5 separate regions of the Homo sapiens genome follow, and all the other regions are linked to region 1. Evidence: fine-mapped expression QTL. A gene starts in region 1. Each other region holds a variant in brackets. All regions are shown on one strand. Distances are from middle to middle. Region 1 holds the start of GPR141 (G protein-coupled receptor 141). Region 2 overlaps GPR141 (G protein-coupled receptor 141). Region 3 has its middle 20 kb from the start of NME8. Region 4 overlaps GPR141 (G protein-coupled receptor 141). Region 5 has its middle 39 kb from the start of GPR141.

The links. PIP is the estimated chance that this variant, and not a neighbour inherited with it, causes the effect.
Region 2: its variant is the best candidate, but not a certain one, in a credible set for the expression of GPR141 in whole blood (INTERVAL, PIP 0.76).
Region 3: its variant is the best candidate, but not a certain one, in a credible set for the expression of GPR141 in whole blood (TOPMed, PIP 0.72).
Region 4: its variant is the best candidate, but not a certain one, in a credible set for the expression of GPR141 in testis (GTEx, PIP 0.52).
Region 5: its variant is the best candidate, but not a certain one, in a credible set for the expression of GPR141 in monocytes after R848 (Quach 2016, PIP 0.74).

The regions. Positions count from the first base shown.
Region 1 is chr7:37,681,071-37,687,591 of GRCh38, reverse strand. GPR141 (G protein-coupled receptor 141) reads right to left here and starts at 3,826. Exons shown (of 3, transcript NM_001381946.1): 1 at 3,689-3,826; 2 at 2,009-2,132. RefSeq lists an enhancer at 5,764-5,823.
Region 2 is chr7:37,724,545-37,731,065 of GRCh38, reverse strand. All of the region lies in intron 2 of GPR141 (G protein-coupled receptor 141), which reads right to left. Among named protein-coding and RNA genes, the nearest start is that of GPR141, 44 kb to the right of the region's middle. RefSeq lists a silencer at 1,920-2,029. The variant AACTG/G (reference allele first, on the strand shown) is at 2,726.
Region 3 is chr7:37,825,517-37,832,037 of GRCh38, reverse strand. No RefSeq gene overlaps it. Among named protein-coding and RNA genes, the nearest start is that of NME8, 20 kb to the left of the region's middle. The variant C/T (reference allele first, on the strand shown) is at 3,198.
Region 4 is chr7:37,717,616-37,724,136 of GRCh38, reverse strand. All of the region lies in intron 2 of GPR141 (G protein-coupled receptor 141), which reads right to left. Among named protein-coding and RNA genes, the nearest start is that of GPR141, 37 kb to the right of the region's middle. RefSeq lists an enhancer at 5,006-5,115 and a silencer at 5,406-5,465. The variant T/C (reference allele first, on the strand shown) is at 2,837.
Region 5 is chr7:37,641,651-37,648,171 of GRCh38, reverse strand. No RefSeq gene overlaps it. Among named protein-coding and RNA genes, the nearest start is that of GPR141, 39 kb to the left of the region's middle. The variant TA/A (reference allele first, on the strand shown) is at 2,597.

The sequences.
Region 1 (6,521 bases):
ATTTGGGACTTATCTCAATCCTTAAGGAGATCCGGGAATATGTCCTCAGTAGAACTGCTAAATGTGTGAAGAAAATGGTGCTATTTAATATAGAGTGATACTGCACAGGCTCACTGTATAATTGTATCCCAAAGCAAATAGTATATTTCTATTTCCTAACAGCTTCTGAGATGAGAGGATGACAAGAGTAGAGGTGAGAGGCACTTTTTTGAATAAGGATGTCTCAGGCATGACACCAACTATATACAAAGCTACTCAGGTTTTTCATTACCATTTCTCAACATTTTAAATCTTAAATTTCCCTAAGAAGTGAATGAATCATATACTAGATATTATAGATTGGATTTCCTTTAGTGGAATTGTTCCTGGAGTGAGAACAGAGCTACAATTTGATTGATCACAAGTTATTCCCCTGCCCTGGGTAGCTGTGGGAAATTCCCAGGAAACAGTGCTCCGACTGACATCATCAATTGGGCAGGCAGTGGAGCTCAGTCTGAACTTCTTTATCAGGGAGCAGAGTGGTGCCCTAAATTCTACCAGACTTGACTTTTGGATTTCCCAGAAAAGCTACCAGTTATGCATGATGTTCCAGCTGATACTATCTTCTACCCAGTCTCAGGACACGAGGGGCTCAGATGCTGATGGCAATGCTTTTCATTAACAAAATTTCACTCTCCACTCACGCCATCCCAGAGAGTAGGTTACTAGCAACCTTGTAAAAAGTATTTCTCTCTCCTATGTTAATTAAATTCCACAAATTTCACTCTTTTTAAAAAGTGACTTAATCATCAGGAACTGCAATATTGAGTTGGCCAATTATTTTGAAATCACAGTTACATCCAATTTTGAAAAGAGAAGCCATCTTTGGACTTAGCAACTACTGCTTTTAGACCATCTGGAGTTCCAAGCCTTCACTATCTATGGTACGTAATCTCCATGATAATACCTTCATCATTTCATTCACTTATTCACTCATATAACCATTCCAAAGATGCTGGGTACTTATTATGGGTCAAACCCTGTTCTAAAATATAAAGGTAGCAAAGGCATAGTTCCTGCCCTTAAGGAAATTATGTTTTTAGGAAACAGACTATGCTTAGATTAAGTTTGATTATGACTGTCACGAATAATAACATTGTCATTCAAAATAAGATGGGACAATAACATAATTTGGAAAATACTTTGGTATAACGTATGAACTAGCTTTGAAAACACTTTGCAAAGCAATGTCTCAGAAATCTTTGATCAATTGAAAATTGTTTTCAATGTTATTACTTTGAAAGACAGCACAGACTTGCACATATTCTAACTTCTTTAAAATATTTTTAGTCTGAGTCTGAGTCAGGAAGACTGCTTGAGCCCAGGGATTTGAGACCAGCCTTGGCAACATAGTGAGACCCCCTCTCTAAAGAAAAAAAAAAAAAAAAAAGGCAGGCAGGGTGGCTCACACCTGCACTCCCAGCTATTCGGAAGGCTGAAGTGAGAGGACCACTTGATTCCAGGAGGTGAAGGCTTCAGTGAGCTGTGATTGTGCCACTGCACTCCTGCCTTGGAGACAGAGCGAGGCCCTGTCCCAAAAATATATTTTTTAACATATTATTTAACAATATATTTAACACATTATTTTAGTCACAACATGCTACGTCTCTTATAGTGCTAGCACAATGGCTTACCCATAGTAGACACCAGTAAACATTTCACAGGCTCATTGATTTTAAATTTGGAAAGCACTTTTAGAAATTAGCTAGACCTGTGGTCCTTAACTACAATTGGATTTTGGACCACTTTGAAAATCAATCCGTGTTTTTCTTATTTAAAAAAAAAAAAAAAAAAAAAAAAGTGCTGCCAGGCACAGTGGCTCATGTTTGTTATCCCAGTACTCTGAAAAGCCAAGGCAGGAGGATCACTTGTGCCCAGGAGTTTGAGACTAACCTGGGCAACATGAGCAAGACCCTGTCTCTATTTAAAAAAAAAAATTAATTAATTAGCCAGGTGTGGTGGCAAGTACCTGTAGTCTCAGCTACTGAGGAGGCTGAGATGAAAGGATCACTTGAGCCCCGGAGGTCGATGCTGCAGTCAGTGAGCCATGATTGAGTCGCTAAACTCCAGCCTGGGCAACAGAGAGAAAGGCCCTGAAGAAAGAAAGAGAGAAAGAGAGAGAGAGATGGAGGGAGGGAGGGAGGGAAGAAGGCAGGAAGGCAGGCAGGCAGGCAGGCAGGCAGGCAGGAAGGAAGGAGGGAGGGAGAGAAACACACACACGCACAAAAGGAAGAAAAGAAAAACACACACTTACATTTTTGCATGCAATTTCAGAGGATTGGTGTATCAATCTAAAGACCATCCAGGAACTCCCTTAGCTGAGCATCTCTTATCCAGTCTACAACTTCCATTTTATAATTGTTGAAAATCATTGCTAGAAGAATAGTTGGAAAATTGTGTCACCTAAGCCAAAGCTGGCTCACTTCTTGTTTTTATACAGCCTGTGAGCTACGAATGGTTTTTATAGTTTTAAATGGTTATGTAAGTACCAATATATTAGCCTCAGTTCTACCTCTTGGCTTGCAAAGCCTAAAATATTTACTATCAAGGCTTTTGTAGAAAAAGTTTGCCAACCCCTGGTCTGGAATCCTTAGACAATATTCCCCCAAATTATGCAGCCAATTACTAGAAAACAGAGGACTAGAATTCACACCACCTGATTCCTCATCCATTGGTCTTCCCATTACTTCTATTGACTGATTAAAATCCTAATTAACTGATTTAAACCCAATAAAACAGAAAACAAAGACATGTAATTCTGGAGTACTTAATAAGTAATTTCTCAGATAAGTAATTGTGCAGTTATGTAGAACGCTGAAGTCCAGAGAATTAAGTGACCTATCAAAAGTCATATAACAAATTTGTAAAAGAAACAAAATTAAATGCCTATATTCAGGTTAGGCATTACTGACTTATTGTTTAAAAACTTTGCATTATATTTCATTCCACATATTTGAAAAATATTACTTCTTGGAAGTAGAAAATACTGGTATAGAAAGTATTTTACTTAAAGTAAAATTATTTGAACAGATGTTGTTCTTTTTATTTATCTTATTTAAGAAGTTATTTTCAGATCCTTCCTGTTAAGTAGTACTTTAAAAGTGGGATGGAAAGAATTATAATTACCATTATTTCACATGTTATTTTGAATATACTTCTTTTAGAAATTTCTAAGTACTTGATTGCTTACAGATTGTTTCCTTCTATTGACTAGGGCTGCCTGAATAGTTTCAAACTCTATCTGAAAATAATGCAGTAATAGAGTTAAAGGATTTTCATAACAAAAGGAAATTAAGACATCACTTAAAAGATAAGCATTTGAATAATTATACACAAATTCAATAGTGCCAACTGCTCTAAAAAATTCTATGATATGTTTAGCTGGTTTTTTGACAGAGAGATTCTGAAATCATTTTTGTTCACATTTACCCATAAATATTAGGTTTTACTTTCAGAGCAGCATATCCTAAGCAGTAAGAATAGAACAATTCTTTCTATAAAGGAGGAGTTGTGGTCAGAGAATAAGCTTGCTTTTTAGAGCAGAACCATTTGAAGATTCTGAATTAGGACTATGCCAACAAATTAAGTGTGCTTTATTTCTATAGCACTTTCATTCATGTCTCCCCAAACCTAAGTCATCTGCACTTACCTTGAAAATCCAGATTTCTCAGTGATGGCTACAGAGATGGGCCACATGTCTGCCTTCCAAATAGGATTCTGTTTCAACAGCAGGGCAGCTGGGTCATTTCCATGCTCTGCATGCATTTGCAAAGGCTCTGGACAGCTCACCAAGCAAAAGGAAGTGAATGTGTTCTAAGTTCCTCAGAATGTCAACAGACCATAAAACCTCAAAACCATTTGAAACACAATAGTCTTGAAAAACCAAGCTCTTAAACATGAGTAGTCCAGGTTGCAAACTACAGAGAGGCCAATTGTCAAGAAATATTTATGAAGGATTGATGACTACGATGAATCAAGTTTTTAAAATGTTCTTCAAACTAAATTTTGTAGAGAATGGGGAACAAAGTGGTATTATCAAAAACAAAAAGGGAAGGTAAACTGTGTATTGTTCTTCTGGTGAAGGAATATGTGTAATATTTCCTTTCAGTAAGGAGAAAATTTCCAGAGTTGCTCTATACCTCACTGGTAACTTAGGGCTCCCACTTTTATAATTGTGTTAATTAGCTGTCACTGATAAATGGCATTGACTGGGATATGGCACTATAATTATGTCATTTAATTAGAATTAAGAGAGAAAATATTTAAAATCAGAGTGTGCTATAGGGGCAGGGGAGGGGAGTAAATCGTCACAGCTTAACTTTTTAGACTGTCAACATTATCTCCAGAAGAAGCTGCCCATACAGTCATAGAGATGCACTGCAAGTATTGAGAAAAAAAAACATCAGTTCCTCAAACTGCTTGAACTTTCCTACCATTTGATGACCACTCTATAAATTAGGATTTTATAAACTTTCTAATTATGTAAATCGGTGGTCCCCAACCTTTTTTGGCACCAGGGAAAGGTTTCATGGAAGACAATTTTTCCACAGACAGGGGTGGGGATGTTTTCTGGATGATTCAAGCACATTACATTTATTGCGCACTTTATTTCAATTGTTATTACATGATAATATATAATGAAATAATTATACAACTCATCATAATGTAGAATCAGTGGAAGCCCTGAGGTTGTTTTTCTGCAACTAGATGGTCCCATTTGGGGGTGATGGAAGACAATGATAGATCATCAGACATTAGATTCTCATAAGGAACACTGCAACCTAGATCCCTAGCATGGACAATTCAACAATAAGGTTCATGCTCCCATGAGAATCTAATGCCGCTGCTGATCTAACAGGAGGTGGAGCTCAGGCAGTAATGCAAGTGATGGGGAGCAGCTGTAAATATAGACGAAACTTTGCTGGCCCACTCGTGCACTGCTCCGCTCCTTCTGTACAGCCCAGTTCCTAACAGGCCACGAACCACTGCTGGTCTGTGGCCCAGGGGTTGAGAACTCCTGATGTAGACAGCATGTTAATATTATATAGAAATTGGTCAATTAAAAAGTACTAATTTATTAAATATCAACATTTTCAACATTCCCCTATTTTTAAAATCCATTGTGACATTTCACTATTTCAAAAAGAAATTTTAAAAGGCATCAAAATGATACTGGCCCTGGGTTCTTTCTATTTTAAGGTCCCTAAGTAGAATGATAACTTTGGTAATTTGGGGTGATTCCTGGTATTCTTTACAGTGCTAAAACACTCATTATTTTAGGCGAAATTTTTGCAGTTCTGTTTTCATCAGTATTCACATTTCTTACTCCAAACATAATGTTCTAAGTGCTTCCAACTTTGTTTCTTAGTTTGAAGAGAAGGCCTCTGCATCAGGAAACTCTTCAATTTCAGCAGATGTGCGTTCTTTCTGCCATATGAGTTAAAATGCTATCTGCTTCAAAATAACTCATGCTAGAGATATTTCAAGCTTTATTAGTTGTAGAGAAGATTGTTGCTGACAAACCCTCCTGCTGAGAGCAGCTTACAAAAATGAACAGAATGCAAAACCTATAAGTTTGAAGGCTTCAGAAAGCTGCCCAGGCAATGACACCTTGAAGAAATAAAATCCCCAGAAGACAGGAAGTACAAATCAGTGAATCTGATTTTCAACTCCTGAGTACTTTTTACTCAAGGCACTGCTGATTTGAAACTGGACACTGAGAGGTGAAGAAACAGGTGAAATACAGTGGCTAAGATGCTCAGAAGTTAAGGAAATCTAGTTTAAGAAGCAAACAGAGACCACCAAGGAGGTGGTGCCCTTATAATTACCTCAAATTTTCAGTTAGGACCCCTGAAGGGCTACACCCTAGGAGACAGCATGTGCTAAAAATATTGTACCATCACAAAGTGGGAGCCCAATTTCAAATCACCTAAATTGCTGAATTAGGTAGACAATCACTGAATAGATAGGAGATTTGCCATCGTCATAACGACCTCCTCACACACATCAAGCAAAAGTAAATACTCTCTGGAGGACGATAACACTAACCAGATCAATGAATTGACTCTCAAACTTTTTAAACACAATGTCCAAATTTCAATAACTATTAAAAGCCATGTCTGAAGATAAGTCTAGAAAAACAGACCATGAAAATAAACAGAAAATAGAAACAAATGCACAAGGGCATTCAGAATTGATTGGTTTTAAAATAGCTGTAATCAATGTTTGAAGAGAGTACACAAAATATAGAAAATTTACACTAGAGAATTTTTTTAATAAAATAGAAATTCTGAAACTGAAAAATAAAACAACTAAAGTTACTTAACTGATGAAGACTAATAGAAGATTAGACACAGAGGATGATGGAATTGAAATATAGGTCAGTAGAAAGTAGCAGATTGGGCTGGGCATGGTGGCTCACACCTGTAATCCCAGCACTTTGGGAGGCCAAGGCAGGTGGATCACCTGAGGTCAGGAGTTCA
Region 2 (6,521 bases), 43 kb before region 1:
TTTCAATAGCAATTAATAGCAACATCAATTCAGCCAAAGTAAACATATTTGTTTGAACTTAGACCGTTAAATATTTCCTAGTCTATTAATTTATGTGTCTGTTAGAGTTGGATGCCCACAAAGAATGAAGGAAATTTCGAGCCTTTTCACAAAATGGAAAGTTCAAAGCTTAACAACCTTGAAAGGAAATGTCTTCATTGCTAAAAAATTGAGCACATACAAAAATAATAAATGCTTCTCAGAAATGCTTCCAATACCTCACTTCAGAATATTAGCTTGCTATTTAGAACAGTCCCTGAGACTGTGGGAAAGCCAAGAGAATGTCTGAGAGACACAGTGAGCTGTGAAGCAGTGAGCCTGCCAGGTATGAGACAGACAAGCCTGAGAGACAAACACCATGGCCATGGCCGGGCCCTGGGACCCTGGAACAAGCAAGCCAGCACCTGCAGTCACAAAAACAAGTGCAACTGATGGCTTTGACGCGTGTTATATACAGAACCTGCCAAGTGTGGTTAAAACAAACACTTGCAGGTAAGAAATATGCAGTCTCTGATCAAACGAAAAGCTCTGTTTTCCTGGATGCCAGCTTTAGATGATATATGTTTAGATTTCTTAATATTCAGGTTCAGGTTTTGAAATTTGTCCTGAGCTTTGGGACACAGGCACTTTGAAGAGAAAACAACTGAAGCTTACAAGGTGCCCAGGATAGACTGTTTGAGATACACTTGTTATTATTATTTAGAGATCCACCTCACACTTTATTTTGTAGAAAAATATAGCATGTGCCGTAGCTCAGAATTTGGAACATGGTATGTGTCAAGTACTTCTGCAATGATTCAGTGAATTCATGAAAGAGAGCGAGAGATCAAGAAAGTGAGGGAGGAAAAGAGAGAAGAGAAAGAAGGGGGGAAACAAAGAAAAGGAATAAGAAAAAGAAAGAAGAGAAGAAGATGAAGGGAAAATAGGAGAGTAGGTTCTGAGGGTCCCAGCCAGTGATGCTGGTGTTATACTTAGGCATTGAACTGACCGTAATATTTTCCTGGGATCTGGTCTTTCTTTACACCTAGAAATGATTGAAATGTCTCAGTTACTTTCTCAGTTGATTCTCCAATATACTTTTGCTAAGGAGTGCAGCTGATCCCAGGAAAACCTGAAAGAAGGTAAGAGAGAGGTAGTTTCTGCTTCCACGGAGACAATCCATTCCAAATACAAGAAGCCAGGGAATTGTTTTTTAAACAACATTAACAACAGTTATTTGTTGATGCTACTTAGATATTTCACCTATATATCTTCATTGCGCTTTCTCTTCCCAAAATATTACCCCCACTCACACAGTCTTGCACATCTTTGAGGTGTAAACACAGACTGCATTTTCTTTCAAGCCCTTCAGGCCCCCGGGACATTCTCAGCTCCTTTCTCAAAAAGCTTTACAGGTGCCTTTCAGTCCTACCTTTGTTGTCTTATTCTCTGTTTTAATTATTTTAGTCATTTGTGGACTTGTTTTTAACTTTGAATTTCTTTCAAAACTAGCATATAATTTTTAAATAGTGGTCATGAGTTGTTAACTGAATGGGTGAAATAATGGTGAAAAAGTGCCCTGACTGGATTAAACATTTTTTGGATATGGCCACATTTGGATCTAGACCAACAACTGACATCAGGATCCCAGAAATAAACTGCAAACCCAGAGCCAGCTCTCTCAGGGGACAGGGCTGCCTCTCTGGCTGGCTGTGGACCTCCTTGTTCCACATGAGGATCCCCTCTTTACCTCTGTGATTGACCTTGGAAGGTCATCATGAAGCCTGGCCTCAAACTCTGATTTTCCCCTGCCCTCTGTCATGTCTCTGCTTAAAATCCTTCTTTGGTTACTGTTAGAGAAAAGAAAAAACTCTGAGTTCCTACCATGACATGTAAGCCCTTTGCAAGCTGGCCTCAGCTTCTATTTCAAGGGACACCTCCTCTCTAACCCCCTTCCTTCAGCCTCGAGCTGTGACTCAGACTTACCTGTCATTCTTGGAATGTTCTCTTTCATACCTCCAGCTTGCTTCTTGTTTCTCTAGGACCCAAATGTACAGCTAAACAACTAGAATGAAGTCCAAATTGCATCATCAATGATTTCACTTCTCTTTTTAAAAACTTTCCCTGGCATCCCATTGTCTATGGGAGCTGTGGGAACTGACATATTAGCTGACCTGACATACCAGGCCAGGCCTTGCTGGTATTTGTAGCTCTAAACAAGCCTCTGCCCTATCCTGGTGCACCAGGATTCTCCCATCCTGCCTGCATGATTCTCTTGTGATTCTGGTCTGATCTCATCCCACACACAAGAGAGCTCCTCAGGTCTTCCTGAGGCCTGGCTGGTGGCTATTCCCTTGTATCTTATCAACCCCCTTCCCAAAGCCTTGCCCACAACCTTGCTTGGGTCTCAGTGGTCATTGTCCATGGCCTGAGGACTACATCAATGTCAAAAGTGAGATATGGAAGTGGTTTCTGTGGCTGTTTTATAAGAAACCTATGGTAGAGCCAACATCAGAGACCAGCCTACAAAATGAGAGTCCTACACAATTTATAGAACCCTGAAAAATAACATTAAATAATCCAAATGCTCATTAGCGTGTAGACCTTAGTCACCAGAACCCCTCCCTGCACCATTTTAAAACAGACAAACAAGTATAACCTACTTTGGGATTTCTCACTTAATTTATTAAACAAGTGATATCACTCT[AACTG/G]TCTACTGTACAGTAGGTAGCAAAGATTCTGAAATGAATAAAACACATCACCGCTTTTAAATCTCCTGTTTGGTAGGAGAGAAAGAGGCACATCAATTATTTACAGAAACACCTATGGGTACGTGAAAAATGCTGCAAGAATTCAGAAAGAGCAGTAATTATTTAAGAGGTACTTGAGGATGAAGGCATCAAAATAAAGTAAAAGATGCTTGGGTACAGATATGTAGCAGTTACTGGATCTTGAAGGGTGCATTGAAGTTCTAGATGTAGAGAGGAGGAAATAAAGCACTCCAGGGAAAGAGAAGATTCTGGGCAAAGGCTTGGATGCACATTCGGGGAATTACCAATAGTTTGATGTACCTGGAACATTTGACATATTAGGAGAACGTGGGTGAGAATCTGTACATGAGGATTCCCATATTTACGGCATGTTGCCACTCTAAGGATTTTCAATTTTATTCTGAAAATTATGAGGGATGCAGGGAATTTTAGAATACTAAATGACATCTTAATATTTCAATTTTGAAAGCTTGTTTTGGCAACAGATTGGATAGTTGGCAAAGGGTTATTCAAGTTTAAATATTATAAGGATTGGAGCAAGATGACACCCACCTAGGAGAGCTTGCCCCCAAATTAAACAAAAATTGAAGAGTCTGGGCTTGGAAAAGAAAAGTACATGCTTCAGGTAACTTCATCCACATTCAACAGTAAAAAGACAAAGAACAGTCACTGGATATTTTAGGAGAGCTAATGACACATTAGATGGATACCAAATTTCCCAGACAAAAGAACTAACAGATGGGTTGGTTTGCTAAGAGGGCAAAGTGGAAAAAAGTAACTTTAAAATGTCCTCAGAGAGAAGAGAATGGTGTGAAATAAGACTCAGAGTTGTTATTTTAATTAAAATGTACCAAACCACACAATCAATGAGCTTGTAAGAAGGTTGAGAATACTCCCACAGATAGAAGCAAAAAAGGTCAAGAGATGGAAGATTTAAAAGAAAAGCTAAAAAACCCCAAGAACAAAACTATTAATAGAAGTTCCAACATCATCTGGAGACAGCAAAAGAGAATGAAATGCTCAGATAAATAATTAAAGGACATTTTCTACACATAGAAAAGATAAAATGTTTATGTTGAAAGGTCCCACCCAGCACTGAGCTAAACTACTAGAAAAGACTCAGATTTAGACACATAAAGATGTTATTTCAAATCACAAAGAACAAATTAGCATATCCACTTCGATGTATAATAAACATCTCAAACTTAGTATATCCAAGGCTGAACTGTGCCCCAGACATACACAAAAACTTCTTCCTTGCAAAGTCCTCGCAGTTTAACTAGTAATACGAACTCCATTTTCTATTTGCATACGTGAAAAATCTTACAATTATCCCTAATTCCTCTTTTTCTCCCATAATTCACCTCCACTCCTTCAGCAACTCCTATCCCCTGTCTCTCATATTAGTCCACATAGAGTCCATGGGCCAGATTTTTTCTATAAAGGATATTACTGGTATAATTGGCCAAATATTAACACAGTCTGCAGATTAAATAATAGAATTGTATCAATGTTATTTTCCTGATCTTGACCATTGTATGTGGTTGTATAAGAGAATATCCTGTTCTTATATAATATACACCACATACTATAAGGATAAAGGCAGCATGCTTTCTATTTATTATCAAATCAATCCAAAAAATTACAATATGGATATACAAAAAGAGAAAAACCAATGTGGAAAAGATTACAATTGGGGAATCTGGGTGAAGGTTATATTGGAGCTCTTTATCATTCTTCTAACATTGTAAATGTTTTGTGTAAAATTATTTCTAAATTTAAAAATTATGAAAAATTACATAAAATAAACATAGAGTTGGTCAACTCTTCATTGCCTAAATTGCAACAACTGGGATTCAGCCACATTAACTCTTAATGGGATTATTACAGCAAGCCCATGAATTCTCCCATTTTTTACTCCTAACTCCCCTATTCCCAACTCAGCAACCAGAGTAATCTTTCAGAATGTAAATTAGAAGATGTCATTCTTCTTATCTCAATCCTCCAATGGCTTCTCACCTTTCTCAGAATCAAATCAAGATTTGGAAATGGTCTGAAAGGCCTTACAGGATGTGATCCCTCCTCCCCGCTCTCTGTCCTTTGATCTCACTTCCTACAGTCAAAATGCAGTGAAACACATTTTAAACCTAAAATGCTCATGTTCATACCAAATTAAAACACCCATTGGTTTCCACATGGTGGCAGTGAGGGAAATAAAAGAGAGAAATTGTATGTGAATATCTCAGTATTTTTTGGTGGGGAGGAGGTTAAAGGTACTGTTTAAGTGTAGAGAAATAAAAATGAATATAACTTCTTGATGAAAACTTAAGAGCAATCAATTAGTGAACCAAAGTTGCATGTATGGCTTGCAAATTATGAGAAGGAAAAATGGAACACAGTAATAGCAGTAACAGAGGCAGGAAGGAAAAAAAAAAACAAAGCAAACATGGTAAATAGACATATTTTAAAATAAAAGAATGAAAAGTCCAGACATCTGAAATCACACAATTTATAATTTGTTCCTTCTTCCACCTACAAAAAGAAGAAATTTTGTCTATCACTCTGTGACTACACTAAAAACCACTGAATTGTGGTTCACCAACCATAAAGTTGTCCTTTGAAAAAAGAATGACTTTTATAGTTGGTGAATTATATTTCAGTAAAGCCATTGTGCAAAAAAAGAGAGAAAGAAATTGCGTCTGAGCTGAGCCTTGGGGATGAGGGAGGAGGGGGAGAATTATTGACAGAGAATCAATGCTGCCGGTGACTGCCTTCATTCATTCATATCAAGGGCAGAGCAGGAAACTCCCTGGTTAGAGGACTAGGAGGATGCCGTGCCAGGAACCAGGAGCCCTGGATGCCTCACCCTGCTCAAGTTCGCAGGCCTGGTCCCTCTGATGTGGCCGCTCATTCCTCCTTGCTCCCCGCTCCATCCCTGGCTTCACTTCTTTCTGCTGCACCTTGAACAGATGGGACTGCAGATTCACCTTCTTGATTCTTGACCACTCAATACAAGGAACCAGCCCTACCCAAGCCATGTTCTTCATAACACTGATCACTGTCATCTCACTTTTTCTTTGTCATTCTCTATATTCACCCCTTCTTCCAAGAAGAAAAGATCCATGAGAGTGGTCATGGTGTCTCCATCTCCAGGAGAGAAGGAACCCTTGGACCAGGAATCAGAAGAAAAAATCACAAATTCTTAGTGTCAGAGTGAAACCTAGAGATTATAGCATCCAGTGCACCCATTTAACTAAGGAAGACACCGAGGCCCACACAGCGACCTTTGAAAGCTAGCACGGCTTGTCACTGGCTAAATTCCAGGTTCTGTGTCTCAGTCTGGGACTATTCCTGTGACACAGCACTACTAAAGGCAGACTCCAGAGGCCCAGCAGGACAGACGGCAGCTTCTAATCAAGAGAACTATGCTTTAAGTCCAGCCCCATAGGCCCCACCTCAAGGACACCAGTTGGGAGCCAGGATGGATGTCCAGCCCCAGCTAGAAGAGGCATCACAGGTTGTTCTGAGAAAAGGTTGTCAGCAGACAAATGGCTTCCTGCCTTTGAGCTCTCCTTAGAACGAATTATAGTTTGTTGTGTTTGCAGAAAACAAATAGGAACAGTCACTTTAATCACTCACTCAGGGAAACTCAAGCAGCAGTTCATCCAAAATATATTGAGAAAAGATTCTGGGATGGCAGCTCCCACATTAAGGACGAGCTCAGTGTAGCTA
Region 3 (6,521 bases), 140 kb before region 1:
TAAATCTTTAATATGATATACTACTGAGCTTTTTTTTTTAACCATCATATGTTGCAATTTTTGCTTACTCTGGTATATTTTCAAAATACTCTTAATTCTTGCAGCCCTTCTCAACTGGGTTTCTGTAAAAAAATTACTTGCGGGCATTCGTTTAACTTCACTAGAAAACTTTGTAATACTGATATTTTAAATGGATCAAAACCCATAAATCCAATTCCTATTCTTTTCAGTTCATATGCTTTAAGGACGGACATACTCAGACCAGGATACATAAAAATCTTGGAAATAATGAGCCTTATTATTGCAGTGATTCTATTTTTTTTTTTCTGATTTTCATCTTAGCTTAATCTTTTTATCCCCTTTGTGAACAAAAGCTCTCTGAAAAAGAATCTGGAGGAAAGAGATTTTATTCCAGAGAACTGTTTGCAAATCAGGCAGACATGCAGGCCGCTGTGTAAAATGAAGGTCCATTCCAGAGAATGAAGGGATGGCATGCCTGGGGTTTTATAGGAAAAGTCCCCACCCAGGTTCCCAACCAGGTCTATTTATGCAAACAAAGGGTTGAGTCTTGTTTGGTTTTGACTGGCTGACAGAGCTGAGTTCTGATTGGCCCAAACAGCTGAGCCTTAATTGGCTAGGGGAGGTGATCTCTGGTTGCTTCCCAAGCCCCAAACCAGCAGTCCCTGTCAGATGTTTCTTTCAAATGGCCAATGGGGCCTGGGGCTTGCGGCACTGGGAGGTGTGGGCAGGTGCTGTGCTTTTTGCAGCAGTTTATCTTGTAGCCCAACAACAGAACAGGAGCTGGTTCAGCTTGATTGTAGAATGGGAGGTCCTTTGATACTTTTACAACATCTTTCTGAGAGCGCAGAACATGTGACCATTCTGTCACCCAGCTATGGACACCTAGTTCTGTTTTAACTTTGAGCTCCTCAGTTAGCCACAGGGAGTCCATTTTGTCTGGGGGCATACTTTATCACCTTTCTTTTCCAAATCTTATATTATCTGATTGAACTGCACACTTTAGCACTTAATTATATCGGTATACAACGCTAGTTTATTTAGAATTGTTTTTTCGCTAGTTGTTTCAACTGCACGTGCCTTGCCTTCCTTAAGTGAGTGTGAACTCCTGTAGGCAGGAATTGCTGAACACACATTTGTTTTGTTGTCTATAATTTCTAAAAATTCACATTTCATTAAAATAGCCAAAGTTACCCCTACTAAACAACACTTAGAGGCAATTAGATTAGATTGCTTGTTGGGCTCAGTGAATCACTTCTTGTTAGTCATGGAACCATAGTTCTTTAAGCATTGGGTACTCACATCTCTGGTAGATGTGAATTAAGAAATTAATCCAGGATGCATTTTGGAATGTGTAATTATCATTCCTGAAGCCACACACAGTCACTGCTCTTAGAACTGGAAAGGACTTCTCTTCTTATAGATGCAGCATTTGAGACTCAGAGCTGATAAGAAAATAGCCTGATTAACAGACTTCAATGTTGAAGACATTTGAAATTCAAAGCGGAGCACTGCTTTTTCTCAGATTTAGAATTAAAAGGGAAAAAAGAAACAAGTGACTTTCACATTTGGTGCGAAGCTTGAAAACATACTCTTTTCTTTACTCACTGGCACATCTGAGCACACACATTAACCCTTCCTCACCTGAGACAAATTGTAAAGAATCTACATGCGCCTCCATATATGCGCACCTCTTCCCTCCCCTTCTACCCTCTGCCATTGCAGTCAGGGAAGACAGTGGCTAAGATGTGCAGTGTGTTACCTTTCCCATGAGTACTTGCATTTTTAAACTTCCATTTTCATTTTGGTAGAGACAATGCGTGCTTCCCTACATATGCTCTCATTTCCTTCTCGGTCATGCTGGTAAGTCTGCAATGCTAGTTCCTGACAGGCAAGGTCATGTGATGTAGTCTAGCCAGTGGCCTGTGACTAGAAATGGCACCTTCAGTTTCTAGCAGGGGGTCTGCCACCGCCACATTCTCTTTTCTTTACTACCCTTAATAATCACAAGACAGAAGGAGCCTGGATCTTTGAGTCACTGGCTCGAGCTAGCCCTAGTTAACCTGCATGGGCCTTTGTGTGACGGACAAATCAACCATCAGTGTGCTACGCCACTGGGATTTGGCAATTTATTTGTTCCTCAACATATTCTTATTAATTCCTTCTAATACATTTACATAAAGAAATATGTGTTCATCAGAGACAAATCAAAATAAGAAAAAAATCAGTACTTTGCTGTTCAATATATCCTCACACGTTTTTCTATAAGTGTATCCATACAAGTCAGAACCAATTGTATCCGTAATAATTCCATGTTGCTGCATGTTACACAAAACCCAAGTAAGAATGGTTTAAAAGCATAGTGGCTTAATTTTCTCTCGGTGAAAAGAAGTGTGAATGTAGGCAGTTTGAGAATGGAGTATCATCCACAAAATATCATCAAAATCCTGCCTGCTCAAGCATTTTCTCCTCAGGGTTGTGTGGCCTCAGTGACTTTACCTGTGATTAAGTATCCAGGAAAATAAAATCAGTATGGCATGGTATCACCTGGGGTAGGCATTGACAACAGCTGCTTGGAGTACCAAGGATCAGAATAGGCTTCCTGAAGAAAGTGGTGTTGAAATGACTCCCGTTGTGTTCCCCCACAGAGGGAGCCTGTGCGATGACCCTGTCGTGAGAGGGGCCAGCCCACTTTGGGAAGCTGTGAGGAGCTCGGTGTCGCTGCAGCTGGGTACAAGGTCAGCAGGAGGCAGATCTGGAGGAGCCTGGGAGAGGTATGAAGAACTGGGTATACAGCCTGAGGGCAAGCAAAACCACCGCAGCCTTCTACTGAGCAAAGTGACTGCTCATTTTTACATTTTAGAAACCCTACTCTGACTGGGACTGGAGAATGGGTTGAAGGAGAGAGGACAGGATGGAAAAACAGAAAAACTGGGGGAATCAAAGTGAGATGGGTGGTCTGCTGCAAGACTGAAGGAAAAACAGAAGAAAGTATATGGATCCACAAGAGGATTAGGAGGTACCTGACAACACATTTACACCAGTAAAACTATTTAAACCTGCACATCAAATTAGATATCTTTATGTCTTAATAGATTAAATATTTTTCCTATTACTCATCACTTCTGCATGTTATAATGCTTAAACAAAACCAAAAATGGGTCGAGTGTGGTAGCACA[C/T]GCTTGTAATCCCAGCACTTTGGGTAGGCTGAGGTGGGTGGGTCACTTGAGCCCAGGAGCCAGGAGTTTAAGACCAGCCTGGGAAAAATAGTGAGACCCTGATTCTACCAAAAAAAAAAAAAAAAAAAAAAGTTAAAAAACAACAAAAACGTTAACTCAGATTATGATCTGATTAAATATATAAATATATGCTATTTTTTACTTGTTGCGTCTTATTTATTACGTACTAGTTCAGAACTTCATGGCTTTCTCCAAATATTAATGTTATTAATATTTAAATGCTTAAACAAATATTAATGTTATTAATATTTAGTGAGAAATGTAATTGAAATATGATTTCATTGTTTTTGAAATCTTGATTTAATATTGTGTGATGGAGTGATTCAAATGCCTGCTTCTAAGTTTTAAATTTATTTCAATGCTGAAAATACTTTCTCACAAGAAAATGCCATTTAAAACAAAAGATATTTATCTTTCAGTATCTTCCAAAAATTATGAAAAGACTTTTGTTACAATTACTCTGTAACTTTTCAACATCCTAAAAAATCTAAATTGCTTTTTCTACCAAATAAATGGGAGGGGTTTGCATTTGACAAATGACTTAAAAATGTAACTTTTGGGGAAATTTTTTAACACAATAGAAAATTTGTGATGCTAAGGTATTTTAAGGGTGTAATTGTGAGCGGGTTTATAAGTCATGCTCATTTTCACTATTAAGCCATGTTAATTATAGAAAAATTTCAAATATTGGTTTTCATACATTTCCACCTCCTCACCATGAGTTATTTCAAAAAGCAGTAATTTTTTCACTGTTTCAAAACATCACTTTAATCTTGGGGGAATAGATAATGATGATAATTTTTTCAAATATACCTCTTAGATAGCAAAATTTAGACAGCCACGTGTCCTCAAATTTAAAACATTTTATTTTTACAAAATAAAAATGAACTTTGCCATGAGATAACCAGTAAATAATATTCTGTAACCATTGGTTTGCGAGTTGTTTTGGAGTGGACATACCAGTTTATCAGCATTGCTCAGGAATAATAACTGGATTTAGACCTATACCACCTGGTTTTGCTGGAGCCCAGGGATAAGGAGGGAGAGGGAGCTTAATGGTCAAGGCTGACCAATAGCTGGGATGTTCCTATGTGACCAGCTCCTTGTAGGAGACACTCAACAAACCTTGAGCTTCCTGGTACCTTTGCATATGTGTGGTGGTTGAAAAACCAGAGACAAAGTGTGTCCGTGCGAACTGGAAACAGGAGGACGAAAAGCCATTGAGGACACTACTGATGATGCATATGATAACCATTAATAAATTAGCACTATCTTTTCTCATATTTCAGATAAGAAAATCAACAAAAATATACATGTATTTTTCTTTGTGTAGCCTCATAGGTTTATATTGCACACCCCAGGCAAGGCGTACACAACACATTGGAGACTACTGGATATGAAAGATACTTAGGAAATACCTGGGCTGGAGATATAGATGTGTTGATAATCAGCACATTAGGGGAATAGAAGCAGAGGAGATGGCCAAGAAATTTGTGTAGTTTGAGAAAGTGAGGGTCCAGGAGGATACGCTAGGAACATCAACTTTCAGGAACAGGTCATGAAAGTAAAGCTGATGAAGGAAAATGAGGAGGAACAGCCAAAAAGGCAGGAGAAGAACCAAGAAGTGATGTCATAAAAATCAAAGAATGAGATGCTGCTGAGGCAGCAATACTATTGCCAAGTGTTACAGAGTGGCCAAATAAAACAAGATCTGGCCAAATAAAATGTCACTCACGTGGACTGAGCAACAAAGATGCCAGTGGTGATCATAAGAGTGTCTTCAGTAGCGTGGTCTGGGAAAGTCCCTTGAGAGACTATAAAGACAGGAGGTGGAGACAGAATCAGCAACTATTTCCAGAAGCGTAAGGGTGAAGAAATGGAAACAGAGAAGAGACAGTTGCCCAAAAAATGTGAGTGCTGGAGGGCTCGTTTTTCTTTTTTAAACAAGGAGGAAGAAGTTTGACTATAATACTATATTTAAATGCTGATTTTTAACAGTCAGGAGAGTAGAAGTTGAAGAAATAGAAGATGGGAGGTGCAGGTGAAGAAAATACGTCAGATGAGAGGAGGGGCGCTTCCTCTAGCATGACCGAAAGAAAAAATACAGCCTTTCCATATATTGTTTTTCTCCATTTTATGTATTTAAATAGCTTATATTTTCAATAACTTTTCTAGCGTCTTTATGCAAATTATTTCTATTACAAGCATCTTTGAGGATCCCTGTGGTGCAAAAATGTTACCATTTTAAAAATCCATATCCATTGGCCGTGACTTTATCCAGTCAATCTGTAATCACAACTATTTAAAAATTTGTATGAAATGCAAGAAAAAATAACAAAGGATTAAAGCATCCAGTTTATGCTCATGTAAACAGTCCGCAGTAAAAGTAACACATCTCATTTGTAGTTGTTCACGCAAAATAATTTCAGGCTTCATTGGAGAGAAATCTACATATCACTGCCTGTTAAGCTCCTTTCTTATCGTATATATGTGTGCATGTGTGTATCTATAGATAGATATACACACACATGTATATACACACATACATGTATATGTAAGATATGTATATACATATATAAGATAAAAAAGACAGCTCTTATAATACACATGTATATAATATATATTCTGTGATGTTATACATGTTATATATTATGTATTTTTATCAGAGGTGACTTTATCAAACTTTCATTTTATGTTTATACTATTTCAATGGCAACACTAATGTCACTAGTAGAAAATGGTCAACTGGGATTGGTTCAGGTATGAGTTCAGATTTCAACCTTTTTTTCTGTTTTCTAAAGGGAAAAATGTTAGGAAATTGCTCAGCTTATTTCTTCATTCATTTATTCCCTGGCAAATATTTATTGAACAGCAAGGCATTATTCTAGAGCATGAGGACACAGAGAGAAGTATAATTTAGTTTTCTCTCTTTATGATTTCCCTGTCTGGTACTATGTCATAGCTTGCCAAATGACAGTCACTGCAATAGAGGCACAGGTAAGATGACAGGGGAGTTGGTTAAGAGGAGTCTCATAATCAGTCTGGAGATAGAAAAGGAGCATCCTGAAATCCTGGCATATGAGTTCTTGCAACAGATGCATAGGAGTAATTAATCACTCCCGCCACTGTCCATAAAGGACTAGAGGTAAGACTAGAACACAATAAGGTGGAGCTGAGCATGGAGCATAGAGGGAGGAAGATGGAGATAAAGGGATTTTGGGGGAAGGGACTTCAAGGTGCAGCAGGAAGTAAGTGTAGTCACAG
Region 4 (6,521 bases), 37 kb before region 1:
GATGCAAGTTCTGGTTACCTACAAGGGAAGTGGGAGCTGAAACTCAGAGGCTTTGTGTCTGTGTAGAGTGAGCCACACTGCTCTGCAAGGCACCCAGGGCACCCCTGCTGCCACCCATGTTCTCGAAAATAAGGAACTGTCAGTGAGTTCTTTCCATTCCCAGGGAGAGCCTTGCATAGATCTGTAGGTCTGCAGATATTGAAATGTGCTATGAATTCTGATCTTTGTGAATGTCCATCTCCTTACCAGAAATTTTGCTTCAAAGAAATCTTTCATTGTCCAGGAACTGTGCTTTATTCTCAGAAACTGTTAAATCTGGGGGACTGTGTTCCTGGCATTCCTGAGTGTCCAGTGCTACTACAGCCTTGTTGCCACCTTTGACACACCATCTGGCCTACTTAATCCACCCAACCTCAAAAGACAGAGAAACATGTCTATACGGACATGTAAGGGACGAGGCCTTCAGACAGGCAAAACGTGGTATCCAACAATGCTGGTAACTTCCTTGCCTCCAAGCCTCCTTATGGCCCATGAAGCACTAAAATGTGATAGAGCAAGAATAGGACATCACTAAAGGAGGCTGCTTTTCACATCACCATTTCACAAGATTCACTCTGTGCTTCACCCAGTATCATAGTTTCCTCCCTCCCTCACCATGTCCACTTCAGGCATTTCACTATCTGCTTGCTCATCTTCCGTGCCATTCACTTTTTTTTTTTCTTCCTAGTAACTTCTAGGGTTTTATTTCTTTTTATTTTCTCAGTGTTTCTGGTATTTTTTATATTAATAAAAAAAGAGGCAACTAAAAGGCACTAAAGAAAAATTAGGCATTTCTGGACTCTTAGGCCAGGCACGGTGGCTCATGTCTATAATCCAGGCACTTTGGGAGGCCGAGGTGGGTGGATCACCTGAGGTTAGGAGCTCAAGATGAGCATGGCCAACATGGTGAAATCCCGTCTGTACTAAAAATACAAAAATTAGCCAGGTGTGGTAACACACTCCTGTAGTCCCAGCTACTCAGGATGCTGAGGCAAGAGAATCACTTGAACCCAGGAGGCAGAGGTTATAATGAGCCAAGTGGTACAAGATACCACTGTACTCCAACCTGGGCAACAGACTGAGACTCTGTCAAAAAAAAAAAAGAAAGAAAGAAAGAAGGAAGGAAGGAAGGAAGGAAGGAAGGAAGGAAGGAAGGAAGGAAGGAAGGAAGGAAAGGAAAAAGAAAAATTAGAACAGAATTTTTCCACTTTTTAAAATATTAGTGTATTTTCTGCTAATATCTTTCTATGCATCTGTGTTAGATTGTTAGATAGTGATAATATTGCACCTCAATTTTCAAACCATGTTTTTTGCTAGTAATGTATAATACCAAAGTACTTAGCCTTGGAGTTTCTGAACTTTTTTTTTTTTTTTTTTGAGATGGAGTCTGGCTCTGTCACCCAGGCTGGAGTGCAGTGGCATAAGTTGGCTCACTGCAACCTCCACCTCCTGGGTTCAAGCAATTTTCCTGCATCAACCTCCCAAGCAGCTGGGATTACAGGCACCTGCAACCATGCTCAGCTAATTTTTGTATTTTTAGTAGAGACGGGGTTTCACCATGTTGGCCAGGCTAGTCTCGAACTCCTGACCTCAAGTGATCTGCCCACCTTGGCCTCCCAAAGTGCTGGGATTAGAGGGGTGAGCTACTGTGCCCGGCTTTTTTTTTTTTTTAAGAGAGGGAACCTTACTATAGTGCTTAGGCTGGTCTCAAGCTCCTGGCCTCAAGTCATCCTCCTGCCTCAACCTCCCAAGTAGCTGGGACTGCAGATGCAAGCCAGCATGCCTGACCTGTTTCCGTGCACTTTTATACGACCGTATAACATCTCATCAAGTGGATGTCTCCAAAGTGATTTAATCAAATTTTCAATGATGTTATGTTTCTAACTTATTGTTATAAATAACTCTAGGACAATCACTTTTGTGAATTTAGTGTTTTACATATTTTAGATTTTTCCAGAAGGTGGTGTCCAATAAAAAAGTGGTCATATGACATGAAAGTATTTGTGGATATAGATTAATAGTGCCAAGTTGCTTTATGTTGACAGACATGAAATATTTCCTTAAAGTCAAAAGTTTATTTCTGCTTTCTAATTTAAACTATTCCTGTCAAGAAGTTTTCCAATATGTTATCCAGATGACTTCAATCAACCATTAATCTTTATTCACTGTAGGTGAAATATACTTGTAGGCAAAATTCTGAAATGAACAAGACAAAAAAGGCTGTGGATAAAATATATCCTTCAAGTAACCCATTGCCCCCTGAGACAGACACCATACTTTCAGGCCTCCACAGTCTAGGCTGACAGTGAGAGAAGACTCTCCCAGAAGTTCTAAAAATTGTGTCTCCACTTTACACCCAAACAGAGACGTGGAGAAATTGTCAACCTTTGTCTTGGAGCCCAATATAATCTGCCAACAAGTTCAGCTGCCACGCCAACAAAAAATCTAGGGAGGACCAAGAATGGAAAATAATTTTAGGACACGTTGGGCATGTTTCTAATGGGCATTTCATCTGTAGAAGTAACCAACATCTATGGATGGAAAACACCACACCACCAAAGGGAAAGCCGTTCAGAGAAGACCTTTCTTAAATCAAAGCTACTGAGACATTAACCAGGCCAATCTGTCCAAGATAACCCTTACTCTGTCTTCAGCCCCAGGTACCTCTAGGTTTATGCCTTTTCACCAATAACGGGCACATCTATTGTAGCATAATGTATTGATAACTTTTGTCACCAGGTCCTGAGTGCCTCTTCAGTTCCTGGCACTAAGATGGAAATTTCTTATATGATACTTA[T/C]AATCCTCCCAAGAAATCCAGGACAAGGGTACTTTTATTCCAAATATTAGTTGAAGAAATGAAGCTCGGAAAAGTTAAGCAACTTTCTGGGTTCACTCAACTAACAAATGACAGCCCTGAAATTGGAGACCCAGGCTGTTTGACTCTGAAGCCTAAATGTTCTGCAGCACATCACAGGGTCACAGCAACACAGAAGTCCCTTTCCTATGAAAAAAGAGAAAAAGTGACATTTCTTCACTGCTCCATCCCTGCTCTCCTTCGGAGCTGTGGATTCCCCTAGACAATTGGTCCTTGTTTTTCAACTGTATTGTTTGTATCTCTATGACCAATTATCAGGGTATTGAAAAGCAGTTAATTAGAATACTAGAAGAGGACTTGGAGAAGTAATTAAAACAGGCCTACTCAAGTTCTCTAAAGCCAATAAATGTTTGAAAAGCAGTTCATCAGATTGCAATGTAAGAGAAAAATAAAACTGCACTAAAAATTTAATTCCCCAAATTTAATGTATCCCAGAGAGGGTTCTGAACCCTTTTCTTAATTTCTCTTTTTTTTTTTTTTTTTTGAGACGGAGTCTGGCTTTTGCCCAGCCTGGAGTGCAGTGGCGCAATCTCAGCTCACTGCAAGCTCCGCCTTCCGGGTTCACGCCATTCTCCTGCCTCAGCCTCCTGAGTAGCTGGGAGTACAGGTGCCCACCACCACCCCTGGCTAATTTTTTTGTATTTTAGTAGAGAAGGGGTTTCACCATGTTAGCCAGGATGGTCTCGATCTCCTGACCTTGTGATCCATCTGCTTCGGCCTCCCAAAGTGCTGGGATTACAGGCATGAGCCATGGTGCCGGCCTAATTTCTTTTCCTTTTTGAACTCTTAAGTACTTAACTCTCTGCTTTTGTTGAAACTGGAAACTACACTCAGAGATTATTATGGTGTGCTCAATTCACATGCTCAGCTCCAGGAAGACCTAGCCCAAGGTGGGCCATGTAAAGCCATTGATGGGCACCAGGGTCTGGTATCTCTAAGTGCCTGCCGCCCTGTGCCCTGTGAACCCAGGATGAGTGCCTGGGGCAGGCCCTCTTTTGAAAGTGCCAGGCTTGAGTCATGGCACACCTTTTCTCTGCCTGCCTTCTGCCCAACTCCTGGTTCACCTCCCAGGCCCTGCTGAGTCCCAAGCCTTCCTGAACCCCATCAATCTCCCGACACCCTGGAACCCTTTTCTTTCATGTCGTTGCCCTGGCAGTAGTTTAGATGTTCCTCTTTGACCAGTAACCCTCCAAGACTGGTCACCCCTTCAGAGGCTGGTTCCAGGCTGGCCCTGACACTCTCTGGGGGCTGCTTTCCCCATTATTCCTGCTGCTCCCCATTTCCAAAGGCTGCCCTGGCTCCCCCATCCTTGCCTTATTTCTAATGGGATCTCTGGAAGGATTCAAGCTCCTCCTCACACTCTCATTCCCTCATCTCTTCCAATAAGCTCATTCCCTGCTGTATCTCACAGGAGTCGAAGGAATGTTTTTCAAAAAAAAATTCCTGACTGGGTGGAGAATCACTAATTTCACTCATTTCCTCAGTTTCTCACCTAATTCTCAGCCCCCTTTTTCTGGTTTTCTGCTCAGCTGCCTATGAACTGTACATTCTAAATATGGCCAAGGCGAACTCTAAGATTAGACAGTTTAGTCCCTTACAACAATAACTCATAATTCGCAGACGTGTGTGGCAAAGGTGAGTGTCAATATTTTTGAGGAAAGGAACTAAGTTGCTAGAATCATTTTGATCCTCCATATAAGATGGGAGAGGACCCATCTGTCAATTATTAAATACAAGATGAGATCCATGTTAGAATGGTTAGAAGAAGCTACTAACCATCAATGCTGGATGAAGGAAGAAGAGATGCAGATATCCAAGCATTATCAGGAAACTTCTTGCCAAATTGAAAACTTGCAAGATACAAAAACTTATCACTGAGTCTGATGGTCAGACAAGATGACTAATCCCAAGAGTGTATGATTTGACAAAGCCCTGGCTTTTGCAGTCATATCTTACCACCTCTCATAGCTCACACAGACTTCCACCTTAGGCTCAATCAACACAACTGTCTTGTGATAGTGCTGGTTACCAAGCAGCCAAAGGCATTTGTTTCCGGGTCCAACCTTTGATTCTGGCATGGCAGAACCAACCAGAACTGTGTGGACATTTTTAAGTATAAACTGGCCATGCTCCACATCACAGCTTTCCCAGGTCACAGGAGAAAGCTGAAATCGTCTGGTGAAACTCTTCACGCACAGGCAAGAAAGCTTATTCTTCTTGCCTCCATAATGCCCTCCAACCCTATCCCCCACCCTGCAACACATATACACGCACACACAACTTATCAGGGAAGCCTAAAATAAAACAAATGTGAGCCCTGCTTAAGATACTGCATCTTCAGTTCTATGTCGCTGGTGTGCATTCAAAGCCTAACAGAAGCCCTTGGTTAAGGTTCAATGAGCCAGGGAGATCTACATAGGCTCTATCACCCTTGTGATCTCAGAAGAGCAATTGTTAAGTGGATGTAGACAGGGCTCTAGTATCAGTTTCTCTCTCATTTATGCTCAGGGCAAATGTTGTTTCCTTTGCCAACCAGTGGCTTTTTCATGCATCTCCATAAATGAGGATAGCTCAATTTGTCTTAAATCAAGCTCATCAGCAGAAATGACTTTCTAACCCACATTTTCTCTAAACCTTCTTTTCTAGAATCCCTTCCTTCTTTCTTTCCTTCCTTCCTTCCTTCCTTCCTTCCTTCCTTTCTTCCTTCCTTCGAGACAGAGTCTCACTTTGTTTCCCAGGCTGGAGTGCAGTGGTTCATAGCTCACTGTAGCCTCGAACTCCTGGGATCAAGCAATCCTCCTGTCACAGCCTCTCAAGTAGCTAGAGTAGCTAGGATTACAGGCACACGCCACCATGCCTGCTAATTTTTGTAGTTTTTGTACAGATGGAGTCTTGTTATGTTGCCCAGGTGGCCTTGAACGTCTGGCCTCAAGTGATCCTCTCACATCAGCCTCTCAAATCACTGGAACTGTTTAATTTCTTTATAGCACTTATACAATGTCTATCTGTGAATCTATTTGCTAATTCGCATATGAATTGACCATTTTCCTCACTAGACTATAGTCCCCATGAGGGTGCTGAGAGTGACTATTTAGTTCATCACTAGCATGATACTAGATACCTAGTAAACACCAAATACTTTGCTGAACATTTGCTGAATTTAGGGCTTCTAATCACCCTTACTAGTTATAAACTTTTTAACAATTCTAACTTTCAATATAATTGACTTATTTCACCCCAGAGAGAAGAAAGAATACTTCGCAAGGCAATTAGACCAGGGGATCCACTTCCTGGTACATTTATCACACAATTATATTTAACAATTATACTCATGAGCAATGTAAACAATCAGATTTAAGATATATGTGTTTGCCCAAGAGATGTATAAAGATTGTTCAGTAACGAAGGAGGGACACACAGTAAAAGAAGAGCAGTCCTGCCCTCAAGGAGCTTATAATTTAGTGAAGGAGACAGATGCATGTTGTAGAAATTCATGAAGGTAAAATAAGATAGTGCATCAGAGCATTGTTGTGGGAGAACAAGCCAAACTGGGAGAAGGGGGAATCTGAGAAGGCTTCATGCAGGAAGCTGGTTTTGGAGTGACACT
Region 5 (6,521 bases), 39 kb after region 1:
ACTATTGGGCTCTTTGTTTTGTTTGAGAGTATGTGCTTCTTCTGATAATTGGAAAGCCTGTATTTTTCTTCTAATGGTTACTTTGTGGCTTTTTATAATATCAGTAATAGTCTGAATCTTCTATTTCATAATAATATAATATCAGGAAACTTTTGTTGGTCTGATTTTGATAATTCCCCACTCTGAGCAATGACTAATTGAGAAAGTACCCCCTTTCTCCTTACCTATCTCCTCTGTCACAACAGTTTGGTTTTTGCCTTCTCATTATGTGTTTTGTGTTGTTAAATATACATATTCCTCTACTACTTGGTTTATTTATTTAAAATGATGTCTTTTGGTTCCTGGGAATGAAAAGATAGATAAGACCATCAAGAAATTTTGAGCACCTACCAATGCTTTTTTTTTTTTTTTTTTTTTTTTTTTTTTGAGATGGAGTCTCGCTCTTTCGCCCAGGCTGGAGTGCAGTGGTGCGATCTCGGCTCACTGCAAGCTCCGCCTCCTGGGTTCACGCCGTTTTCCTGCCTCAGCCTCCCAAGTAGCTGGGACTACAGGCGCCCGCCACGACGCCTGGCTAATTTTTTGTATTTTTAGTAAAGACGGGGTTTCACCGTGTTAGCCAGGATGGTCTCGATCTCCTGACCTCGTGATCCGCCTGCCTCGGCCTCCCAAAGTGCTGGGATTACAGGCGTGAGCCACCACACCCGGCCTAGAACACCTGCTAATTCTTATTAGTAACATCATATTAATATTGTCAGAGTTTATAACATTTACATGTCTTTAACCATACTGTTTCCATTTATCTCTTAATTCGTTGACAATCTCAAGTAGTGTCTTCAAGAAGACACAGGGATAATATTTATAGGAACAACATTCCCTGGACATTTGCATGTTTTTAACCACATCTTTCTCCACTTCACATTGGCATGGCAGTTTGACTTGGCTTTAAAAAAATATTTTCTCACTTTCTTTCCATAAGGACTTTTTCCCTGAGGATATTTTGACCGATTTAGAAGGTTGTGTTGTATCTGAGACAACCCGACTTGCTTGTTTGTTTGTTTAATTATAAGTTAGTAGATCCTTTTAGTCTGGCTCACCTAAAGATTTTTTTCCTTGGAAACCTAATAGGTCTACTGAAATCATTCTCCATTTTGACACATCTCTATTTTTCCTAGATCATTATATGCCTTATCAAGCATAGATTCAAGTTACCTTCTATATTTTGGAATATTACCTTGAATCATATTGTAGAATATCTGTATACCTCCATTTCTTCTTCTAAGACTCCAATTTTAAAAGATATTAAATCTCTTTTGCCTATCCTCTGTTTCAGGTGTCAGCAAGGTATGTCTCATTGGCCAAATTCAGCATACCACCTGTCTTTGTAAATAAATTTTACTGGAATACAAGCTATTGTTTATGACTATTTTCATACTGCAATAATAGGATTGAGTTATTATGACAGAGAACATATGGCCTTCAAATCTGAAAATATCACTACTGTCAACCCCTGTTCTATATCAATCCTTTCTCTCTAATCCTTTTTAACTCTTTATTCCTATTTCATTTTGCTGGGCTTTCTTGTTCCTGTCTTTTATGTTCTGTGTTTTTTCATTCAACAGTATATTTTCTCCCCAGAGTTGTTTCCAAATGCTTTTATTTATATTTTAATTTTAGTCTTCTACATTTTTCTGAGTTCCACCAGAAAACGTCACTTCATCTCCTTTTCTCTCAACATCTCTGATCACTGACTTCAGCATATATACACATATATGTGTATATATACACACGTGTATGTATATATACACATATATGTATACACATATATTTATATATACACATGTGTGTATACATGCATGTGTGTATATATGTGTGTATATGTGTGTGTATATACATGTGTGTATATATATGGAATTTCTTTCTAAATATATTTAAATTTGTAGCTATATAACAGGTCATAACGTTAGACCTTCTCCATGGCAAAATTTTTCAGGTAACCGTTCTTTATTTGCTATTTGCTTTTCCTTTCTCTTTCTCTGTACTTCTTTTCTTGTAGCATTATTATACAGGTATTATTCTGATTCCTGTTTTGTTTCAGACATCTATTTGGTTGATTTGACTTGGCATCTTTTCAGAATCAGCTATTTTCAGGAAACAGGGACTATGGGAAGTACCAGGCCTTGTTTTAGAAAACATTTCTCGTGACTTGAGGACTTCTGTATTCAATATTTGGCCTTTGCTTCTTCCCAGAAAATGAAGCTAGGCAGCTGTGCAGTTGTCCACCAAGCCACAGTTTCTGCGTAACTCCTCCACATGGATGACTATTTCTAGTAACCACAGCTTCTCTACGTCGGCTTCATTTCTGCCTCTCTGGCTTCTGAAACCCAGGCTTCCATCATCAGCCTGAGAGTCCGTGCACACCTTTGGCTTTACAGGCTCTAGAATCCATCTGTCCCTGTGTGGCTCCTGAGAGGATTCTGCTTTCCCCTTTCCCTCCTAATTTGCACTTTGCTGGGTCCTTTTTCCACCTATTTTGTGGTTTGGCATTTCACGTCTCCTTTTTTTTTTTAAGAGTTTACATTTCTGTTTTTTTTTTTTT[TA/A]ATATCTCCATGTTGCTTTTTGTTGGTTTTCTAGAAAAGGTGGTTGAAATGCTGACTTCATACTGCATCATCACACCGATATCTGTCCTTAATAGTTTTAAGTTTCACTTTCTCAATCTGTTTAATGAGGTATTAGCTGCCCCATGGAGTTACTGCAAAATGTATTAAGCAGTCAATGTAGATTTCCTAGAACATCTTTCTCTACCATCCTTAGTATCTACTCAGGAAAGGGTAAGAGGCTAATTCTATTGCTTCTCAGTCTTTCTTGCTAAGGTTTAATTTCAGAACCATGCTGCAAATGTAAAGTTGCACTCATGTTTTCTGGTTATCGGGTAAACTTCATGTATATAAAAATTAAATTAAATATTTCCCTTCTCAAAGTCTTTATTTAAGATGTTATTTAGATAATTATAGTAAAATACTGGGACTAAAATTTTAGGGCAAAAGTAGAAGTTTTCCAGATAAAAGGTGTATGGAAGAAAGCATTGTAGGCAAGGCAACAGAATGTATATAGCAAGAGAACTACCAAAGATGGTGGAATGTTTGAGACCTTAAAGAAATTCAGCATTGATGGCTGGAAAGCATGAGATCACAAAAGCCCTTTAAGGACCTAACTGTTCTGATCAAAACACTGCATCAATCGTTTAGTCTATTGTGAATTTAGCTGTGTTGATATACTATCTAATGGATTAAACTTACAAATTGGACATTTTTAGCACCCCCTTGAGCAGTCCAGCGTATGAATTATACATTATGATACCCTCATTGGAAGAACAAAGTTGCTTCACCTAATAGTTTATTAATATAAATGTCTTCATTTTCTGAATAAAAATACTGTTAAAAATTATGTATATGTATATGTATATGTATATGTATATGTATATGTATATGTATATGTATATATTGAGAAGAAACAGAATTAGCCTCTTACCCTTTCCTGAGTAGGTACTCAGAATGATAAAACAACGCTGTTCTAATACACAAATGTGTGTATATGTATATTGTTTTAAAATTATGCATTCTGTATGTGTGTGTGCATGTGTTCAGAAATGGCACATATCAAATTAATTGTGGTTAACTCTGGAGAGAAAAGAACTGGAAAAAATAAATAAGACTTCAACTCTATCTAAGGTATTTTATGTTTTCTTCCTTTATTTAAAAAAATCTAAGAAAATGTTAACCGTTAACTCTGTAGAGCAATCAGGTGTCAAGGTGGAAAATTCAGTCAACAAGACAAACTGAAAGCAACAATCAAGCTTCCTATTCACTTACACAACAATGCAAGCAAGAGGTGCAAAGGGGCTCCACCTCCCCCAGTGTTTCATTTTTCCTCCACAGAATGGAACTGGGTGAGGTTCAAGAATGAGGGGGAGTCATCTCACTGCTGAAAAGCCCCAAACAAAAGGCCTTTGTCTCTTCATGGACCCATGGACCTGGGAGAAGAGGAGAAGGGCTTTAAGGAAGAAAGTACTAAGTCAAAATGAGGAAAAGTGCTTCAGTCAAGGCTGCTGAGCAAGAGGCCTCTGGATGGCAGCAGCAGGGTGAGGAATTAGATATGCAGGTGAGCATGGCTGGTGGTGGTGGGGAGAGGGGATGAATTCTTGACTGCAACTCCCTGCAGAGAACTGCAATGCGCTGGCTGTGCACCAAGTCTGTAGGAAAAGCCATTTCCTCCCATAAAGCTCCAGGCTAAGCCTTGCATTTGCCCATGGTTAGGCCTAAAATATATGTAAGATTTTAACCTGGAGACAGACTCCTCAAATTCTAGTTATAAATAAAGTCATTTGTTCTCTATACCTTTCTGTATTTTATACTCTGTCGAAAATTAAAGTTATACATATACATTGAAAAAACAATTCAAATAGATACATAAATGAATAAAGTAAATAGTGAAAGTCTCACTGTAATCACATTACCCAGAGATATCCACTGGTAGCAGGCTGGTGTCTTTGCTCCTGAATATTTTCTGTGCTTCTATATACAAATGTATATAGAGAGACATATTTACAAAAATTGAGTAATTTTTAAATGTATTAGTCTATAACCTATTTTTACATTTAATAATATAGTACAGCATCTTTCCAAGACAAGAGGTATTGATCTAGCTCATCTTTTAAAATGGCTGCATAATTACAATGTACACAGCATTGCAATATTGCAGTGATGTGGCATAATTTTTTGCCCCATATCTTACAATTTTCTAAATTGAAAAATGTAATTTATTATCACATTTGCTACAATTATAAAAAACTGCAGTGTATATTCTTATACTTATGATGTGCACATCTTTGTGTGTTTAGCTATTTTCCGAGTAAACCCTTAAGGTAGAAATGCTGAGTCAAAGGATATATTAATGTTGACATATTGCCAAACAGCCTTCCAGAAACTGTGTGCCACCACATGCATCTTCCATGAAAAAATGTCTTTTAACACACTGTTGCCAAAACTGGGTGTTTTAATAATTTTAATTCTTAACAACTGATAAGCAAAAGATTTTACTTTCAATTTGAATTTCTTTTACTAATAAGGTTTAGCATTCTTTAATGTTCACTGATCAGAACTAGCAATTTTGTGAGTTCCTTATTCATTTTCTTTGACAAATTTTTCACCAAAGCTTCCTATTTTTCATATTAATTTTAGGTTGACATGTATTAGTACTACCTAGCTAGATAGATGCACACATATTTACATATATAAAATGCTGTCATAAGTATGACAAATATATTTTTATATTGTCATATTTTATATGTGTTCTTTGCTTTTCATATGTGTTCTTTGCTTTTCAATTTTGTGATACTTCTTGACAAAAGAAACTTAATTCTTAGAAAACCAAATTTGGAGGAGGGGCAAAGATGGCCCATTAGAAGCAGTTGTAGTCCCAGCTCTCACAAAATGGCCAGTGAATTCTGCACCTTCAACCTGAGGTATCCAGGTTCTCACATTGGGACTGACTAGGCAGATGGCTTGACCCACAGAGAGTGAGGAAAAGCAGGTGGGGTGACAGCACACCCAGGAGTCCCATGGAACAAGGGAAGCCCATGCCCCCAGCCAAGGGAGGCAGTGAGTGATTATGCAACCCTGCCCAGGAAACCACTCTTTCCCTATGGATCTTTGCAACTCATGGATCAAGAGATCCCCTCTTGAGCCCACATCACAAGGGCCTTGGATCCAAAGCACAGAGCTGTGCAGAGTCTCAGCTGAGCAGCTGCTCACTCACTTGCTTGCTTGCTCAGGCACGCAGGGAAACCTGGGAGTTTTGCATACTCTGGCCACAAGAATTCAGGCAAGGCGAGAGATCCCGTGCATTCCCCTAGGAAGGAGGCTGAATCCAGGAAGCCAAGCGGTGTTGTTCTGTGGGCCCCACTCCCACAGCACCTCACAAATTAAGACCCACTGGCTTAGAATTCCAGCCAGCCAGTGGCAGCAGTCTGGAAAGACTGAGACAGCAACCTGAGACAGACTGAGTTCCCAGTGGGAGGGGTAGCCGCTATACCTGCAGTTGGAGTAGGCCATTCTAACGGGCCAGCACTGGAGACTGGGAGGAATTCCCCACAACTCAGCACAACTGCTGTGCCTCATCATGGCCAGTCTGCTTCTTTAAGTGGGATCCCAATTTATCCCTCCTCACTGGTGGGGCCTCCCTGTGGGAATTTCAGCAACTCCAGCCAGGTTTATACAGACAGAACTCTGATTTCTCCCTGGGATAGAGTCTGCCAGGATGCCGGTTCTGGAGAGGTCAGGTAGTCAGTGCAGTGCACCTGCTCTGCCAAGGGGCAGCCATACTGCCTCTTTAAGCAGATGCCTGATCCTGTTCCTCCTGACTGAGTGAGACTTCCCAACAGGGGTCACTGAACACCTCCTACGAAAGTGTTCTGGCCAGCATCAGGTCAGTGCACTGCTGGGTTGGAGCTCCCAGAGGAAGGA